Linked DNA regions of Homo sapiens: region 2 is linked to region 1. Evidence: fine-mapped expression QTL. A gene starts in region 1. The other region holds a variant in brackets. All regions are shown on one strand. Distances are from middle to middle.

Region 1 (5,380 bases):
AAACATCCTATATACTGATCTCTGAGAGAGTCTAGGATTACCCAAAGGAATGAAAGATTTTTCCATAGGGTAATACAAAAATAGGAAGTAAATACACTTGATTTATATTCATGGGCCCTTTTTATTCTGTCTTCTTCTCCTCAATATTTATAATTCCCTTTATAAAAGTTTCTTCTTTAGACATATTTTATGGAGATTTGCTTTAAGTGATCCTTAATGACTAGAAGATAGGGACAGACACCACTGCTGCAATCCTACCAGCTTTCTCAGTTTGGGCCTGGAAGCCAATTTTAACTTTTCCCTATTCAGTTAACTCTATATTGTATAAAGACATAGATAGATAGATGATAGTGATTATTTCAGAGTGAACTGTGATATGGGTGTGGGTGGTGTGTTTCTAAGCAATAATTATGATTTGATTTTAAGTCAGAATTATTTGTTTCAGTAGCAGCAGTGGATATCAGAGTATCAGAAGAGAACAGTTTTTTTTGTTTTGTTTTTGTGACGGAATCTCGCTCTGTCACCCAGACTGGAGTGCACTGGCACGATCTCAGCTCACTGCAAGCTCCACCTCCCGGGTTCAAGCAATTCTCTGCCTCAGCCTCCTGAGTAGCTGGGATTACAGGCTCCTGCCACCATGCCCAGCTAATTTTTGTATTTTTAATAGAGATGGGGTTTTGCCATCTTGGCCAGGGTGGTCTTGAACTCCTGACCTTGTGATCCACCCATCTCGGCCTCCCAGAGTGCTGGGATTACAGGCATGAGCCACTGTGCCTAGCCTGTTTTGTTTTTTTTTTTTTAATCTTTAGTGAATGAGATTCAGAGTAGCATGGACATCTTCTTATATTGTGGGAGGATTATTTTGTCACTGTGAGGGAAATCACAATTTCCTTTCCTCCTCTCCCATATCCTTGTCTAAAGTCACTTAACTTTGAGTTTGGCGGCTTTCTTACACACTTGCCTACTATTAAGAGTCAAAAATAATTCCAATCTAGAAGAATAGTACTTTCTCTTTTCCCCTACCATTAGCTTTTGCTAGTTTTGACAATTTTGGGGAGTCTGTAAACCTGATATAATTATTTTAATGTTATATTTTTTATAAAATAAAGAATTTGAGGAGAAAAAGGATGTTTTAAAAATCTAATTCTCCCTACCTCAGAGAACTCAAGCATATTACTTATTTCACACTTTTAATCATTTCTTCTCTTTTTCTTTTCTCCAGTTTGCATGCTGCAGACTTGTTCTTATAATCTCTTCTTAAGTCTTTCCAGCAGCATCTGCTTTTCACCTTTTCTCATTTCTTCCCCTGATTTTTCAATGCAGTTTTCAATGGTTTTCTTTTGACACCACTTTCAAATTTCAATTTTTTCTTCTGTTCTCTTTCTTCCTCTATATTCCACATATGACTTCCAAAGGTTTTGTAAAGATGAATTGTCCAGGATTAAGAGAGTGATTGATTAAGAGCCTACAGAACTGGGAAGAGGAGAGCTGCCAAGCTTTTCTTTATGTGTAGCACAGTGGAGCTACCCAGAGTGTGAGAAGCAAGAAACAGAGAGCCTTGCTAAGGCACGACGAAAAGGGGAAGCCTATTAAAAGAATGATCTGGAGGAGTGTGCAGTGAAGAAAATAAAGTAGAGCCAGCCTGCTGGGTCAGTAGCTAATAGCCCATGGGTTTACAACTAAGGAAGTTAAAATTCTAGCTAATGAGAATTGTAGACACCTACTGAGAGTGAACCGAAGGCTTCCTATTAACTTCCCTTCTTGGGTCTTTTTGACAGAACAGTCAGAAAGTTGTTTCCTATTTGTTTAGTAGCAAAAGAGTTGAAATGGAGGTTTAAAAAATGATGAAAGAGAAGTTGGAGGCAATCTCTTACTCAGCTCCTTCACGAGGTCCAAATACGATGTCTCCCCCACTCCACTCAAAATGTAAATCAGCATAGGTCACAAAAAGAGGAAGGACAGTTAAAAAAAAAAAAAAGAGTTGGGCCAAATAAGACATACAGCCAAGATGACTGAGACAATCAGAGAGGATTTGGGGTGTGGGGACTTCAAATTAATAAATCCGGTATTAGCTTTGTGGAATTAGCAGGATTAGGGTACCTCTTTCAAGAACACTGGTTGAATTTCATGGTTTCAATAGATGACCATTAGCTGTTATGTGCACCCCCCCCCCCCTTTTTTCTTGCAGAAGTTAAGAAGTCTGCTTAACTCGCAGGTCACCAAGAGATTGATTAAAGGCCTCTGGACATCATTTGGGTTTGGATAAATCTGTAGGGCCACTTTACAGACTGTCTCCAACTCCTGATCCCACTGTGGTTCTTTCTGAATTGATCCAGGTCCCTGCTAGCAAGTGAAGCAGAAAGAATCCAGGCTAGTTGTGAGATGACATACAGCAAGCAGGCTGAGATGATGGGGACATTTCAGAACCAAGAGGAGGGGGCGGGCAGGACACGGACTTGTCTCCCCCACCTTGATGCCAAGGTGGCATCTGGGAGATATCTCGAAGGGCAACGTCGAGGGGACTGCAAGCGTCAACCCTGGCGCGGCAGCACGGCGCCCCTCTCCGCGGGCGGGGAGCGAGCGCGTGTGCGCGAGAGCGCCGGGCGGCGGCGGGAGGAGGCGCAGGCGCGCTGCTCGCCCGTCTGCAGCCCCGAGCCGAGCGCCGCGTCTCGGGAGTTGATGGCAGCACCACTGTGCGGCCGCCCGGCCGAGCGCGGAGCGCAGCCACTCGCCGCTGCCCAGGGAGCGCCCAAGATGTGGGGGGACCGGGGCGGCAGCGGCCGTAGCAGCGCCAGGGACGGGGGCACGCAGCAGCCTCCGCTCGCCCGCCTGTCCTGACCTGCCTCGCTTGCCCCCAAAGAATGTCAGCCAAGTCCAAGGGGAACCCCTCCTCGTCCTGTCCAGCCGAGGGACCGCCGGCAGCCTCCAAAACCAAGGTGAAGGAACAGATCAAGATCATCGTGGAGGATTTGGAATTAGTCCTGGGCGACCTGAAGGACGTGGCCAAGGAACTTAAGGAGGTGAGAGGCGCAGGGGTGGGGAGGGAGTTCGGCACCCTTCGACCCCTCCGGGGTCCCCTTTCCGATTTTCAGCAGGGACAGCCAGATTTCCAAACTCCTGGGAAACTACAGAAAAGGCGCCTGCAGACGGACTTTCTTTGCTCCTGGAGTCCTGAGAGGAGTTGTTGTTGCACTTTTTAATTTTTTTTTTTAATCAGGAAGAAATCAACTAGTGTTTTAATCGATGGACCTGGGCTGGTGGGAGGGATGAACGCACGCGTGTCTCTGAATCTGTGTGTGTGACGACGGGGGAGAGGGTTAGCTGGGGGTGTGTCGGCAGAGGAAGTCGTGAGCAGCCCGGCTGGAGCGTGCAAGATGCTCCTCTCCTGCCCTATTGCTTCCCCAGAGTCCTTTGGCAAGTCCGCTGCCTATCTGTCAGCCTCCCCAAGTCAGGGCTGAAGAGGGGCCGGGTTCTGGGCCCTGGGCCAGATCAGGGAGGGCAGCCTGGAGGAAGCTTGGCTCAGACTACCCTCCCTGTCTCTCGAGCCTCGCTGTAGGGAAGGCGACCCGGGCTGCTGGCAGCCTTGGGGCTAAGGAGGGGGTCTGGGACTTTCTCACTTTCTCAGTTTCTGAAGCATCCCCTGCTCTCCTCCGAACGTCGTTACCAGTAACTCTGGGCCTTCCCGCCACCCTACCTCTGCTTCCTTCCTTCCACCCTGTCGCCACTTGGCATTGAACCCGAGAAGCAGGACGCGCAGGAGAGTGTATGTGTGGCCGGGGTCTTGCCATTGGCGTCCTGGCTCTCTGCAGCTGGGACTGCTTCGGTTCTTCCCCGCTTTTCCTATCCCACTTCGGTTCAGCCCTACTCCCGCCCGCCCCTAGCCCCAGGTGATCCAGATGGAAAGAAGCAGAGAAGGTGTCAGGGCTGAGGCTGCGTAACTCAGGCGGCGGCTCCGGGCGGGGGCGGGGGCCGGGCTGGGAGGGGTGGGGTCTCCCGAGCCAGGCTGGCTGCCGGCGGCGTCGCGGAGCTGGTAGCAGAGTCCCAGCGCGCCGCTCACTACTGAATGGGGTCCTGGTGCGGTTCTCGGTGAGGGAGTCCGCAGCTCCGCTGCGTGAGAGCTAAGACTAGAACTTCGAAGGTGGCGGTGGCTGCAGCGGGAAAAGGGGTGGGGCGTAGTCTAGGTCCAAAATTGTAATCCTGTTTCTGAAGCCAACGGGGAGGAGACTGAGGGTTGTTTGGATGACTGGCCTCTAGAGATTAACCTCCTGTATTCAATTTCCAAACCAAATTTCAAGAGCCCCCTCGTCTTCCTCCCCTTCCCCCGTTACCTCTATGAACTGAACTCTGCATTTGTTACCTAATGCAAGTCTGTTAAAATGGGCCATTCGTCACCAGGGTTAAGTTTGCCAGTGGTAAATGTCGTTCCTGTAGGTTACTCCACAGACAGAACATAATTAGTACTGAGGTCCTGAGAGTGGCTGTTAGTATACATAGATTCAGGGATAAAACTTGTTCGTGTTTTCAGGGTTTCTGTAGGATTATTGCTTCACAACTGGTTGACAGATGGTGGGGTTATGCATTGAAATTCAATTCTAAAAATGCTGTCCCTTTCTTTGTTATTCTTTTATATGACATCTTTGGTAGACTGTGTTTTCATCTGAAACATGGCGTTTTAAAAAATGAAATTGGGCATGTTCCTTTCGGCAGAATTGTGCTTAATAGTTGGTGAGGTTTCTATGGGCGATGTGGAAAACCTACAGCGGCACAGAAACGTATTTACTGTTTTCATGAGGCTGAGACTAAAAGAAAGGTAGTTAAACAGAATTCTGCATCTGTGAGCCATACTTCCTTATGTTTTAATGTCAGTCCACTCACTTTTTTTGCACAGAATAAATGACAAGAAACTGCACATGGTCCTGGTTTTGCTTTGCATCATTATTTATGGACATTTAGAGATTAAGTAGTGAAATCTTCAACCTCCCTGTGGTTATTGGTTAGAATCACAAAAATGTAAGTCAGGAAATCTGTTGATACCACTTTCTGTGTCTTCATTACTGAAGATTTTTTAAGGTTAAAAAAAAGGTTGTTTATAAGAGGAATAAAAAGCAGAGATAATGTACAACCCAGTAGATGAAACTATCTGACAGATCTAGAGATACAATTTTGACTCAACATTTTGGAAGATTTGTTTGTCTTAAGGATCTGTTTGAGTAAAAATCTCACCATGAAACTGAAATTTATGACATAAATAATGTGATGTGATTGTTAATTACTTTTGTGTGGGTATCATCATCCTAGATTTGCACAAGAAAATGTACCTACAATGGCCAAATCCCAAAACATCGGCTATTCATAGAATATGAATGAAAATATTTTGAGA
Region 2 (5,380 bases), 76 kb after region 1:
TTTAGTAGAGACGGGGTTTCACCGTTTTAGCCGGGATGGTCTCAATCTCCTGACCTCGTGATCCGCCCGCCTCGGCCTCCCAAAGTGCTGGGATTACAGGCGTGAGCCACCGCGCCCGGCCGTTGTTTATAATATAAGCATAATATTAGAAGATACTTTGAAACATACTTTCTGCTAAATAAAGAGATTAAGACTGAGTTGTCTATTCATTGATTTCATTTATGTTGAATACTTAATATTTAGAAAATACAAGCAAGTTATTATTGTTTCCATTTTAAATTTGAACAAGATATTTCTACCATCCTCTTTCAAGCTACTGGTTTAGTTTAATTGATAAGCATTCTGAGATTTTTAAGGGAAGCTCTTGAGAAAACATAGCATTTTCAGTTGTATTTCTATGAGTCAGGATTTGTCACTACTTTGCAACCAAAATGGAATCCACACGTAATTTGTCTGTAGGAACAACAGTCATCTATAAACCTCAACTGCAAAATTTTGTGTTGTTAAAATACATGTAATTCAATTTATTGGATACACATACTGCAATTTCGAACTTACAAACATTAATATATGCTATTAAAATGCCACTTTTAGTGGCGATATAGGGGACCAAATAAAGGTTTCTGCTGTTAAAACATTTTGATAACTGCTTGGTGGTTTGAATTTCTCAGAAATAAAAGAAGTACAGGTCTATAGGGTGCTTTTATAAACTGAAAGCATCTTCAGCATTTGCATTAATGTGTTGCAGTTGCAGAAAAAAAGAAGGTTGTCCTTGCTTCCCACACTCTCCTAAATGGTTCCAAATAATCTTGTTCTTTAAGGTATCAGTCATCTGAATTACCTCACTGCTCTCTTTCCCAGTAGTTATAGTTGGGCCTGGAGTAGGTTGAGCATGTGCAGCCTGCTTAGGGCTACTGCTGGGAGAAAGTGTTGGCTGCTGACTAGCAATTGCATCGTGAGTTTGTTCCCTGGAGGAAGACTGTGAAAAAATGAGTGAAGTAAAATACAGAGAAGGAAAATTGGTTTGAAGGAAAATGGCTAAATTAGGAGCAGACGAGACCACTCCAAGGACAGAGAAGGTACTTGGGCTCCTGAGAAAACAGAAAGGAGTGGCTCAGTATGGCTGTTAGCATTTTGTGAAATTTCTGACAGGCAACTTTGACGCCATTTCTACACCATAAAGAGAAAAACTGAAGGAGGTTCTCATGAATATTTTCTTTTGAAGAATGCTAGGTTTTTAAAATCATAGTATTGGCAAAACAAAGAAACAGTAAATATTATTTTCTAATAATATTAGAAAATAATATTTTTTCTAAATATTTTCTAAATATTATTTTCTAATAATATTTTCCCTGGAAGATTAAAAATATTTTAAATTAATATCAAATATTTAAAATAATAACAACAAAGAAACCAAAGCCAAGAAGTAATGCCCATAGATATTCCAAAGGATTTTAATATAGATTTTATTCTGAAATTTATTTAAATTACTACTAAATAATTATTGAATAGCCATCTAATACTTTAGTGGATTTATATGTTATCTTCAGGAAAAATTTTGCTATGGATGGGAAGAGGGTGAATAATGGAAAACAACCTATCGGGTATTATACTGATTACCAGGTGACAAAATTATCTGCATACCAAACCCCTGAGACATGCAATTTACCCATGTAACAAACCTGCACATGTGCCCCTTGAACCTGAAATAGAACTTGAAAAGAAAAAAAAACAATGCTATCTGTGTCAGTAAAAAAGGGTGTAGGAAGAGCATTTTGAGTCATGAGATTCTTGTATTATTCATTGGTTAATGAGTATTTAAATTATCAGTTGTGTATAATGTAATTGGATGTTGTGAAAAACACTGTATGAATATTAGGTTTTTTTTTCTTTTTTTTGGATGAGTAGTTAACATGTGTAATGGTAGAGATGACCGAGTCATTTTTAGAGTCTATTGTGTTTTATATTATAGGTTCTTGCTGTTTCAAAATCCCTTTTTGGTTGAAATTCATGCCTGGCACTTTTAAAGCCTGAGAGTACAGCTGCCTTTCCAGAGGCTCATACCTGGGTAGAGCTTGCCACGTTTTGAGTTTATTTTGAAACCAGTTTACTTTTGGTGAACCTAACAGGGCTTCTTATTTTGATGGTTCATTAGAAGAAAAGACAGCAGTAACAGTGTTTTGTTTTATTTTATTTATTTATTTTTTAAATTGAGCCAAGCACATTTACACATTCCATTTTTTTGTTCTTGGAGAGCCTCCCTTCAGGCCAGGACACAAATTCTCAGCAGGGCAATTGCAGAGGCCCCTGAGGAACCTCTTATCTGTTTGCACACAGCAGCTAGATTGTATGTTTTTGAATTCAAATCTAGAAATGTCTCTTTCCTCCTTAACATGATTTTCGGGCTTGGTCTTGCTTTAATCAGAAAATCTGAGGTTTTTAGGACACCATCCAGATTTCTTTCTCAAGTCCTTATAAGGCCCTATGTGCCCTGGCCGGGCCTCTCTTAACCAGGTTCATTTTGTACCATGTGCCCCTAGGCAGTTAGTATTTTGGTCACGTAGCCTTGTATACTGTCCCTTGAAAATATGATGTCCCTTCCTGTCCTGGACTTTAGATATGTGGTATTGCCCTCCACCTTCCTCTCTCCTTTGGTCTGTCCTGACCAACTCTTTCCCATCCTTCAAGACAATTTATTTATGCCTAGTGTTCCATTATTGGAACGCTAAGCATCTGGGAGTTATTTATATCCTACTGCTCAAGGTCATCACCAAGGTCTGATTGCAAAAATTCCAAAAATTGCAACCTCAGGAATAAATGGGTTATAAGAACTCAGCCTCCTAGTGACCACAGAATAGATCAACACTCTCTTTTTGCTCTTAATATTATATACTGCTACTTTCTAA[C/CAT]GTGTCATATCACAACTGTAATTAAATTATTAATTTTGTGATTGGAACTTCATTTTCAGCCCACCCTGACAGAATGTAAGCTCTGTTTAGGCACCTGGAACAGTGCCATGAGCATGGGGATATGCAACAAATGCATTTAGACGTACACATACACACATACATGTATTTTATAAAGAGATTCTTTAGAGGTCTTATAATTGATTGCTTTAGTATTTGAGGCAGGACAGAGGTAATACAGACTAGATATATAACAATAAATGACTGTTTCGTTGTTGTTGTTTATTTTTGTTTCTTGTTTTTTTTGGAGATGGAGTCTCAGTCTGTCATCCAGGTTGGAGAGCAGTAGCGCAATCTCGGCTCACTGCAACCTCTGCCTCCAGGTTCAAGTGATTCTCCTGCCTCAGCCTCCTGAGTAGCTGGGATTACAGGCACATGCCACCATGCCCAGCTAATTTTTGTATTTTTAGTTGAGATGTGGTTTCACTATGTTGGCCAGGCTGGTCTCAAACTCCTGACCTCAGCTGATCTGCCCACCTCAGCCTCTCAAAGTGCTAGGATTACAGGCGTGAGCCACTGTGCCCAGCCAATGACTGTTTTTTAAAAGCCTGAATGTTTTTGCTTCCCAACTCTGTGTCATTTCTCGTCACAAGGTGTGATTTTGTTACGTCTAGACCAGTATGGACATTAAACTGTGCATTCTACTTTCAAGAACTAATGACAAGCAATTAAATAATATATTCAGCTACAGCAGATTCGGGCTTTAAAATGATTGCTCAAGGGCATTTAAAAATATATCTGTTTCCTAATATTTAGAGTTTTATACTTTCATTTCTGCCTTCTTTTTTTATAATGAAAGTTAGTCTTTGGAAAGAATTGTGGCTCTAGATATGGGAGTGTTCCTGCCAGTATAACTGGGGTCATACAACTTTCAGGGCTTAAATAGGCTTTGTGGAATAGATATTTTCATCAACCAAAAAGACATTTCCTCCAGGATATCTTTGCCACTTCCTATTCTCTTGATCATTTTTGAGTTATCAGGCAGAATTTACCCCCTTCCTTTCCTCTTTTTTTTTTTAATTACAGTTTTGAGCACTCATTTTAGCCACAGATTAAAAATAAGCAATATAGCTTCTTGATACTCCCTTGTTGAAACCAAATGATTGACATTTCTTTTCCTCTAGGTGTTACAAAGAACCTCGGAAAGGGATACCACTTTATTAGCTGAAACTATTTTTGTGTGTGTGTTATATTTCTCAGGGGCACTGTAATTCAATTTTTGCAGCAACTTTTGGGCCTTGTTAGTGCCTCGAGTCAGCTTGTTGCAAGGTTTTGAGTGGTGATACTTATGCTGGAGTAGCTTTTTGAAAAAGTAAATAAATATTTTCTTCAAGATAAATATATAACTTCTGTTTTTACTTCTAACTCGTATGGCATTCTCATCTTTATTAATGGTTTCTCAGTATTTTTAAATATTCCTTCTATTTTGGAATGATTTTAGATTTATAAAAAAGTTGCAAAGATAGTACAGGGAGTACCTATATACTCTTCACCCTCTATCACTATTAACATTTTCGTTACATGATACACTTGTCAGAAATTAAGACATTAACATGGATAAATTAATATTAACAAAACTCCAAACTCTATTTGGAATTTACCAGTTTTTCCATTAATGTTCTTCTATTTCAGGACCCAAACCAAGATACCACCTCTCATTTAATCTCCATCTTTTCAACATAAAAACAAAAACAGACAAAAAATGAGATAGAGATTAACCAAAAGATTGATGGATCCAAGGTGTCATGGTCTATGTCAGTAATGAGAAGAACCAGGATGGTATATCTTATAATTACATAAGTATGTATTTTGAAGGCAGTGTCATCCCCTTGCAGTATTGTGTAGCTGGTACTGAAAATGTTCTTTGAAGGTGGATAAGTTTTTGCTTATTCACATTTATTTGTCTCTCTTGTGACGACACCTAAGATAGTGTTTATATTATTAGCAGTCATTCTTTAAAGAATCAAGAATAGAAATAATACAGTCATTAACGAGTGATTATTCAATGTGTGGTTTTATTGCTGTGTTTTTAACTATTAGGAAACTATTTGATGACTTTTGAAGATTCTAAGTTTTAGAATAGGTAAGAATAGAGCCTTTACTGAGGATTATTACATTTCTGTCCTTTTAAATAATTCATCTGATTGTAATATGTATGGCATGACTTGTTTTTATTATAAATCCATAGGCTGAAATATAGTCCCCTTACCTTTCAGATGCAGAGATTCAACTTGTAATTATCAAACTCTTAAGAAAACGGTTGAGCTTTTCCTATATTGTAAAATACTTGCTTGGGAAATTTTTGTAAAATACGTCAAAAACGGATGAAAACTTGCTTAAAACTACTTAATAGGTGTTTAAGAATTATATGTAGATGCAAGAGTGTGGCATTTGGTGAGCATATCGTGGGGTTATTT

Alleles and levels. Alleles are on the strand shown, and positions count from the first base shown. SD is a standard deviation of normalised expression in the study named.
With allele C in place of CAT in region 2, the expression in testis of the gene that starts at base 2,675 in region 1 is lower (moderate effect, 0.56 SD a copy in GTEx).

What was found.
Region 2: its variant is fine-mapped to the expression of PRR16 in testis (GTEx, PIP 0.94).

What each region holds. Positions count from the first base shown.
Region 1 is chr5:120,461,626-120,467,005 of GRCh38, forward strand. It overlaps PRR16 (proline rich 16), which reads left to right and starts at 2,675. Exons shown (of 2, transcript NM_001300783.2): 1 at 2,675-3,020. The coding sequence starts at 2,862. RefSeq lists a silencer at 2,594-2,643 and an enhancer at 3,049-3,550.
Region 2 is chr5:120,537,955-120,543,334 of GRCh38, forward strand. All of the region lies in intron 1 of PRR16 (proline rich 16), which reads left to right. Among named protein-coding and RNA genes, the nearest start is that of PRR16, 76 kb to the left of the region's middle. The variant C/CAT (reference allele first, on the strand shown) is at 2,907.